2 separate regions of the Homo sapiens genome follow, and region 2 is linked to region 1. Evidence: fine-mapped expression QTL. Tissue or cell type: whole blood. Region 1 holds a variant in brackets; the other region holds the start of a gene. All regions are shown on one strand. Distances are between the middles of the regions.

What was found. PIP is the estimated chance that this variant, and not a neighbour inherited with it, causes the effect.
Region 2: it holds the start of DND1, and the variant in region 1 is fine-mapped to the expression of DND1 in whole blood (TOPMed, PIP 0.93).

Annotation. Positions count from the first base shown.
Region 1 is chr5:140,720,429-140,724,827 of GRCh38, forward strand. All of the region lies in intron 1 of LOC105378198 (a long non-coding RNA gene), which reads left to right. Among named protein-coding and RNA genes, the nearest start is that of ZMAT2, 22 kb to the left of the region's middle. The variant G/A (reference allele first, on the strand shown) is at 2,526.
Region 2 is chr5:140,671,422-140,675,820 of GRCh38, forward strand. DND1 (DND microRNA-mediated repression inhibitor 1) reads right to left here and starts at 2,155. Exons shown (of 4, transcript NM_194249.3): 1 at 2,098-2,155; 2 at 1,850-1,967; 3 at 1,024-1,485; 4 at 1-329. The coding sequence starts at 2,121. WDR55 (WD repeat domain 55) reads left to right here. Exons shown (of 7, transcript NM_017706.5): 7 at 1-924. It overlaps HARS1 (histidyl-tRNA synthetase 1), which reads right to left. Exons shown (of 13, transcript NM_002109.6): 11 at 3,596-3,712; 12 at 3,258-3,404; 13 at 2,484-2,907. The coding sequence ends at 2,836. RefSeq lists enhancers at 1,029-1,824, 1,825-2,620.

The DNA.
Region 1 (4,399 bases):
TTAGAGTGGAGCACCGACTGATGCCTTGTGATTTTGTAATTCTCTTTCATTTCTGTGGGACTCTTAATTTTCTTTTCTTTTTCTTTTTCTTTTTGAGACAGGGTCTATCTCTCTCTCCGAGACTGGAGTGCAGTGGCGCCGTCTCAGCTCACTGGAACCTCTGCCTCAAGCAATCCTCCTGCCTCAGCTTCCTCCTGAGTAGCTGGGACCACAGGTGCGCGCTACCTCGCCTGGCTAAATTTTGTATTTATTTAATTTTATTATTTTATTTAATTTTAATATTTTTGTAGAGACAGGCATCTTGCCATGTTGCCCAGGCTGGTCTCGAGTTCCTGACCTTAAGATATCCGTCCTCCTCAGCATCCCATAATGTTGGTTTACAGCAGTGAGCCACCGCACCCAGCCTGGGACTCTTACTCATTGCTTGCTTCCTTTTTCTTCACCATCAAGCCCTGAAGGGGTACCTTCCCTTCAAGTCGCCTCTTTCCTCCTGCCTTTCCTCTTGCCTTTGCAACATTGCCATGGCCAGTCTCAAACAATTTCACCCCCTTTTAAAATCTGTCTCAGTTCTTTCATCTACCAGATCTCGGACGTATTGTCAGTATTTCTCCACTCAAGATGGGACTCTTTTTCTGGTGGTGGTTTAGCCTTTCTGTGCCATCTTGGCTTCTCTTCTAGAGCATGGCTCTGTAACTGGATCTGCTGGTTTTGGATGTATATACCTGCTTTTATATAAAATGGGGTTTATAATTTTCTCTGTCTGTAAATTATATTGTAGCCATGGATGGTTTTATTCGTTCTCCTTAGTTTTGTTTGTTTATAGGATGTGTGGAGAGATTCAAATTTAGGTAACTGGCGTTATTCTATAGGAATCTGGAAGCCAGAACGTTTGTTTTTGTTTTCCATAAAAAATTTTAATTGTGGTAAAATACACAGAAAACAAAATTTGGCATATGAACCATTTTAAAATGTTCAGCTCAGTGGTGGTAGGTACATTCACACTGTTATGCAACCATCACCACTATCTATCTCCAGGAACTCTTCATCTTTCAAAACTGAAACTCTATACCCATTAACTAATAACTCTCCACCTCCCTCTATCTCTAATCCCTGGCAACTGCCATTCTGCTTTCCGTCTCTATAAATTTGACTACTCTAGGTATCTCATAAAAGTGGAATCACACAGTAGCTGTCTTTTTGTGACTCCTTTATTTCCCTTAGCACAATTTTTTTTTTTTTTGAGACAGAGTCTGGCTTTTTCTCCCAGGCTGGAGTGCAATGGTGCGATCTCAGCTCACTGTAACCTCCGCCTCCCGGGTTCAAGCGATTCTCCTGCCTCAACCTCCCCAGTAGCTGGGATTACAGACGCCCACCACCACGCACGGCTAATATTTGTATTTTTAGTAGAGACGGGTTTGGCTATGTTGTCCAGGCTGGTTTCGAACTCCTGACCTCAGGTGATCCACTCACCTCGGCCTCCCAAAGTGCTGGGATTACAGGCGTGAGCCACTGCACCCGGCCAGCACAATGTTCTTAAGGTTCATCCATGTTGTATCATGTACCATAATTTCATTCCTTTTTAAAAAGGATAAATAATATGCTATTGTATGTGAATACTACAATGGAATATTATTAAAACGGAATATTTTGTTTAGCCATCATCCATCGATAGACATTTGGGTTGTTCTGACCTTTTAGCTATTATGAACGATGCTGCTATGAACATAAGTGTACGAATTTCTATTTGAGTTTCTGCTTTCAATTCCTTTGGGTATATACCAGAAGTGGAATTGCTGGATTATATGGTAATTCTATTTTTAGCTATTTAAGTGACTGCCATACTGTTTTCCATAGCAGCTGTATCATTTTACATTCCCACCAATAGTGCAGAAATGCTTCAATTTCTCCACATCTTCACTAACACTTATTCTCTCTCTCTCTCTGAGTGTGTGTGTGTGTGTGTGTGTGTATGTGTGTGTTATTGATAGTAGCTATCCTGAAGGGTGTGAGGTTGTGTCTCCTGTGGCAGCTCATTTGATTTTAATCTCTCTTAATTATTAGTGTATTTAAAACTGTAAGTTTGCCTTTAAATACTGCTTTATTTGTAGTACACAAATTCTGTCATGTAGTGTTTCATTCACTTCTAAGTGTTTTATAAGCTGAGTCTGATCTAGTAATATGTTATTTATTTTCCAAGTAAGTGGGATTTTATTTTAGCAATTGTTTTTACAAATGTTAATTTCAGAATGCATTGTAGTAGGAGAACATTGTCTGAATGGGATTGGATCTTTGGAATTTATTGATGCTTCCTTTATGGCCTAATACATGGTCTATTGTTGTAAGTGTTATATGTATATTCAAAAAGAGTGCCTGTTTATTTTGGTTCTACATATTTTTAAAAATGTTTTTCATTTCAGCTCATTCATATCCATACTATTTTCAGTTCTATGTGATCTACAGTTCTTAGAGATGCATGTTAAAACATTTCCAACTACAATTGGTGATTTATGTATTTTTTCCTGTTT[G/A]TTTGATATAGTTCAAGATTGTATATTGGATGCATGTATGCTTATGATGATTGTATCAATTTTCTACAGTTAATTAATTAAGCATTTTAACACTGTGAGATAAACATGCAGAAAGTTTATGAGGTATATACGTAAATTTAAATACTTATAAAATGAATCCATATAATCACTACTATATAATCCATATAATCACTACTAAGGATAAGAAAACGTTGCCAACATTCCAGAAACCCTGTATCTCTCTTTTGATTTTCACAACCCCTTCACTTTTGGAATTAACCATTCACCTGATTTTTTAATTTTATTTATTTTATTTTATTTAGAGAAGAGGGTCTTGCTATGTTGCCCAGGCTGCAGTACAGTAGCCATTCACAAGTATAATTATAGCAGGCAACAGCCTTGAACTCCTGGGCTCGAGTGATCCTTCTGCCTCAGCCTCCCGAGTTGCAGGGACTCTAGGCATGCACCATTCTGCCCAGCTCCATTTACCTGATTTTTATTGATTTATTATTATTACTGGTATTATTTTTGAGACAGAGTCTTGCTCTTTCACCCAGGCGGGAGTGCAGTGGGGGTATCTCAGCTCACTGCAACGTCCGCCTCCCGGGTTCAAGGGATTCTCCCGCCTTAGCCTCCTGAGTAGCTGGGATTACAGTCGCCCACCACTATGCCTGGTTAATTTTTTTGTATTTTTAGTACATATGGGGTTTCACCATGTTGGCCAGGCTGGTCTTGAACTCCTGACCTCAAATGATCTGCCTGCCTCGGCCTCCCAAAGTCCTGGGATTACATGCCTGAGCCACCGCACCCAGTCTCATTCTTCAGGAAACCATCTAGTTTAATTTAGCTTCAAAGGATGTCGTTCCTTTTTTGGTACAGTGGAGCTTACCTCTGGTCACTTCTTTTTTTTTTCTTTTTTCTTTTTTTTTTTTTGTTTGAGACGGAGTCTTGCTCTGTGCCCAGGCTGGAGTGCACAGGCGCGATCTCGGCTCACTGTAAGCTCCGCCTCCCGGGTTCATGCCATTCTCCTGCCTCAGTCTCCCGAGTAACTGGGGCTACAGGCGCCAGCCACCACATCCGGCTAATTTTTTTTTTTTTTTTTTTTTTTTTAGTAGAGATGGGGTTTCACCGTGTTAGCCAGGATATTCTCGATCTCCTGACCTCGTGATCCGCCCGCCTTGGCCTCTCAAAGTGCTGGGATTACAGGCATGAGCCACGGCGCCTGGCCATCTCTGGTCACTTCTAAAATGCAATTCTGAATTTCAGAATCTTTAAACTCTTTTGGGACTGGTAAGTGGTTTGAGTCTCAAAGGGACCTAAGTCATGGGGGTGTTTGGAGGTGCTCAAGTTGGTGTCTTAGGAAAGGAAATGGAATGGAAATTCAAGAGCCCACAGCAATCTCCCAGATAACTCAGAAATCTCAAAGAGAAGCTTGTTTCAGGGCTTTCTAAAACCAATGGAAATGTTTGCATTCTGGTTGAGGAATATCCACTTGACCAGTGCTTAGGTGAACATGCTGTAGGTACTGGTATTATCGTCTGGGGCAATGCATCAAAGTCCCAGATGTCATGGAATGTACATTCTGGTGGAATTGCCCTTCAGAGTACCTGGGGAACAAAAGATGATCCTTATTACTAAAGATGATCCTACGGCTTCAGGCACCCTCAAGGCCTCTTGCATTTCTCCCATAACTTTCTCCAAATATGTGTGCAGATTCTTTAATCCAGCATATATTCTAACAACATACTTGTGTATGTGTACATATATGTACCAAGATGTGTATCACTGCAGCTTTATGATAGTGAAACTTAAAACTAGTACATTTATACTTGAATATAATGCAGCTGTTACAATACAAGTGATTTAGGTTTATA
Region 2 (4,399 bases), 49 kb before region 1:
TAGGGTCAGCACAACCCAGATGAGGCCGCTGAAGGGCACCGGATGCCCAGGAATCACCACCTGGTACCAGAAGCGGTGCCAGCCAGCAGGTCCTATGCCCAAACACTTGGTGAGGAACACAGGGCTGCCCAGCTTCATTCGTTGGCACAGCAACTGCAGGGTAGCCCGAGCCCCTTGGAACCCTAACTTGTCCCTTGCCAAAGCCAACTGGCTGCCCTCTGGCTGTGGGGACCGCAAGAAGGGACCCACAAGCTGCTGGCGAAGTCGCTGCTTCAGGTCTGGCTTGAGCCACTCCACAGCCACCTGCTCTCCACAGAGGTGTGACTGCCCTGTAGGAAAAATGCAAAGACAAGGGCAGGTCTAAACCCTGGGCCCAAGCCTCCAGGTGGTGAGCCCTTTGGAGCTACACAGTCCTGTTATTTGTAGCCTTCCCATTTCCTGGTAGTGTGACCATGGGTAAGAAAAGACAATGAAGCCTTCAGCCTCCATTATTTGCAAAGGGAGTATAACACACTGCTACCTTACAAGTTTCCTTGGAGAAGTACTGGTTAATTGCAGGCTTTGTCTGCCTCATAACCATCATAATGGCTAATCTTTACTGGGAAAACTTGCTGTAAGTCAGTCAGTGTGCTAAGTACCGTACACCCATTATGTTACTTAATTCTCATAACAGTCTGAGGAAACAGATTCTATAGTAGTAAAAAGCTCAGTTGGATTCCCTTGAGCAAATCAATTTCTCTAACAGTTTCCTCATAGCTTGAGGGTCCTGTGCCTATTTTGCGGTGTGGGGGTGGGGGAAGGTTGAGAATTAAGTCAGGAGGTAATGCTCGGGAAGTGTCACAAATTTAGGTAAGCGGTGGTGGTAGCACCATTGGAAGTTTTAAAAATCTGAGATCAAATAGTAAAAGGTTGCAAATTCTGGCATGTTTGACTCTAAGATCTTGTAACTTTAACAGCTATGCTCAGTATAAAGTGCCGGGCAGAACGCGTTTGGCCCCAACCAGCACCCCCGCCCCAGCCTACCTTCCACCAGGGCCTTTTTGGCCATGGCAGCGGCCCGGTGCGAGCTGAATTTGAGCAGAGCGATCTGCCCGGGCGCCGGTCCGGGGCTGGGCAGCAGCCGCGCCTCCTGCAAGCCGGGACCCAGCGGCTGCAGCGCGAGCAGCAGCGCGCTGCGGGTCAGATTCGGCGGCAGGCCGTCAACGCTCAGCTCACACTTCTCGGTGCTGCGGCACACGAGCAGCGGGCAGGACGGCCGCAGCGGATGGTTGTGCAGCGTGGCGATGGCGGCCTGCGCGCCGCGCCTCGAGCTGTAGCGGGCATAGGCGAAGCCGCGGTTCAGGCCGCTGAAGGTCATCATCAGGCGGAACTCGTAGAGGCGGCCCACGCGCTGGAACAGCGGGATAAGCTGGTGCTCGTACACGTCCTGAGGCAGCCGCCCGATGAACACCTCTGACCCAGCTGGCGGCGGGCTGCCCACCCAGCCTGTGGGAAGAGGGTATGCAAGGCCACCGTCAGGCGACGCTTTCGAATTCTGAGCCCACGGACCCAGCGCGCGGGGGTGGGAGGCGATGTGAACAAAGGTCTGTGAAATGGGTTTACACCCGTACCCTGGGTGGTTGGCATAATTAGGTGACTGCGCTAACAAGGGGGCTGGCACAGAGTAGGTACACCTTGAGATTGGCCCCCTCCCTCGACGGGGCGGGTGGACGTGGAGCCACAGTTCCTCCTTTGCTGGGGGGTATAAATCCGGGTAGTTCGCAGTTTCTGACAGTGAAGGCTCGGAGCAGCCCCTCCCCCAAAGGGGGCTGGTGTAGCCGGACAGGCGGAGGGGCTGGGACTACCGTACCTGGGGGTGGCCCGCCATACTTCCTCTGCCCGTTCACCTGCACCAGGCGGATGCCTGTCTCCCTGACCCACGCCTCCAGCGCCGCCTTGTTCTCTGGATTCACCCTCTCACACCACAGCTGAGAGGGAAAGGAAGGTTGGAATGGCGGATCGCCAAGCGCGCCCCCACCTCTCCTGTGGTACTGGGGTCCCTAAAGCCGACCCCCGCTCCGGCGGGGCTCGCCGGCCCCCAAGTCGCCAGCCGCTTACCTCACAATCCCGCTTGGACTGCATGGCTCTCCAGCTGGCCCCCTCGTACCCTCTTTATAACTTCCTCCCCACCGGCCTCTGGAAGCTTCCCTACCCCTCCACCCCGCAAGCTCTCATTGGCTCTGAGCGCGACCCCGCCTCCCAGGGGGGTGGAGGTATCCACTGCACGTGCGCCGCCCGGGCTTCGCTCAGACCTTCAGGTGAAAGCTGCAAAGTCGCGGGTGCGTATGTACGGGGGCTGCCTCCCGAGGAGGAGCTCCCAAGCCGCAGGGTGGACGCTGGAGACAAGAACCTCAGGGTCACAAGTTTACTGTTTTTCTCCCTTTTCCATCCCTACATTGGTCTGCTGGGGAAGGCGGGGCTAGGCATCACTGACACACGCAGACTCCGTGGTTGAGGCATTTTATTGGACCTTTGGCAATTGGTGGTGGGGAGGCATCTGCTCCAACTGGTGCGGGGCCCTGCAGATGGGACCATCTCAGGCTGGGTCCTTGTAGCCCAGGAGCACAGACTGGACTAAGCCTCCTGGGCCTTGTATGAAAAAGGTGTTGTACCTGGCCGTTTTTGCCAGTAATAATCAATAAAATAACCATAATAAAAATCAAAGGCTCTGTTCTGACCACTCTTCAGGTCTTCCGCTGAAACGGAAAAGTGCAAAGCAATTGAAGTACATATGCAGTTTGTCTTAACCTCAAATAGTGCCAGTCCCACTTCCTTTCCTCTGATAGTTTGTTCAGTTCAGCAGATGCAGAGGGGCTGGCCTGTTCTCCTTTTGATTTCCTCCACAAGGTCTTCTCTTCGGACATCCACCTGGCCAGGATGGGAGAAGAAGGTGGTATAAGCATCTTCCATTCCACTGCTCCCCGAGTGCCTAGTTTCCTCTAGCCCTCTAGGCATCAGGCTTGTCTCAGCTGGGAGCAGGAACCTAATTAAACACCTCAGGCTAGAGTGTGCCTCTTGGGGGAGCCAACAAACCATAAGGTATATGCAGGGATGGAGATCTCACCCTACTAAGACCACAGTAACAGGTTAAGCCCTCAAGGCTTTTATGAGTTGTACTAATATCAATGCCAGGCTTTTTCTCAGGTCTTGAATGGGCATGGGCCTGCCAAAATGGCATACATTCTCTGTCCCTTAGCCTTCCTGCCCACCTCCCTCACCTCTTCCCTGCTCGTCACTGAACGGAGCTTGATGACCCCATCCTTGAGTTCCTGCTCGCCGATGATAGCCACCAGTGGGATGCCTGCCTCCTCACAGTACTGTAACTGGTTCAGTAGCTTTGGGTTCTTCTTGTACAGCAGCTCAGCCTGCAGGGGACAAGAGCAGAAGATGAAGGCTGGCTTCTGCTGTCCTCAGGGACAGAGGGTGTCCAAGCTGGCACCCTGTTCTTAGCTCTACTTTTGAGAAGTAATGGCAGGATCCATTATGGGTGAGCTTTTATTCAGTTTGTGTCCAGCACACCTAAGTTTGCTGCCACCCTGGGGCTTGCCTCCCATACCTTGATCCCAGCATCCCACAGTTCTGAGACAAGCTTTAGTCTTTCCTCTAGCAGCTTCTTCTGTGCAGATGCCACAAGCACCTGTGTCTCCGTGGTCCGTATCTTCTCCTCCAAAGCCTGGGGAAGGGGCAGATAAAAGAGAGCTGGGCTAACACCTTCAAGGAGCAAACAAAGCAGGCTCTAGTCGGGATTTTGAGACCAGGCCCAACTCAGCTCTACCAGGGCAGGGGCCCTGTCTTCTCATCTAGCACCTTGGGCATAAAGGTAGCTTTTAGTAGATATGAGGACTGAACTGACTGACTTGTACATAGGACGTATCAGAATAAATAACTTAGGGCAAGAGTAAAGGTAGCTTTTTTACAGTAACTTCAAGCTTATCTCCATGTAGTACCTTTTTTTTTTTTTTGAGACAGGGTCTCTGTCATCCAGGCTGAAGTGCCGTGGTGTGATCACTGCAGCTTCGACCTCCCAAGCTCAAGTGATCCTCCCACCTCAGCCTCCTGACTACAGGCACACACCACCATACTCAGCTAATTTAAAAAAAAAAAAAAATTTTTTTTTTTAATCTGTAGAGACAGGGTCTCATCATGTTGCCCAGGCTGGTCCATGTAGTACCTTAAGGGTCCACCAAAGCATTCACACAGAAGTACTACTATGAGCCCACCCCAATTAGATCACCCTTGACAGTTTTAGTCCCCACTTACTATCTACCCATTTATGACACTGTGCCTCTCACACTTCAGTTACAGGGCACAGGCGTGTATATGGGTGTGGGGAAAGGAGAATGCTGCTGCTGCTTCCCTT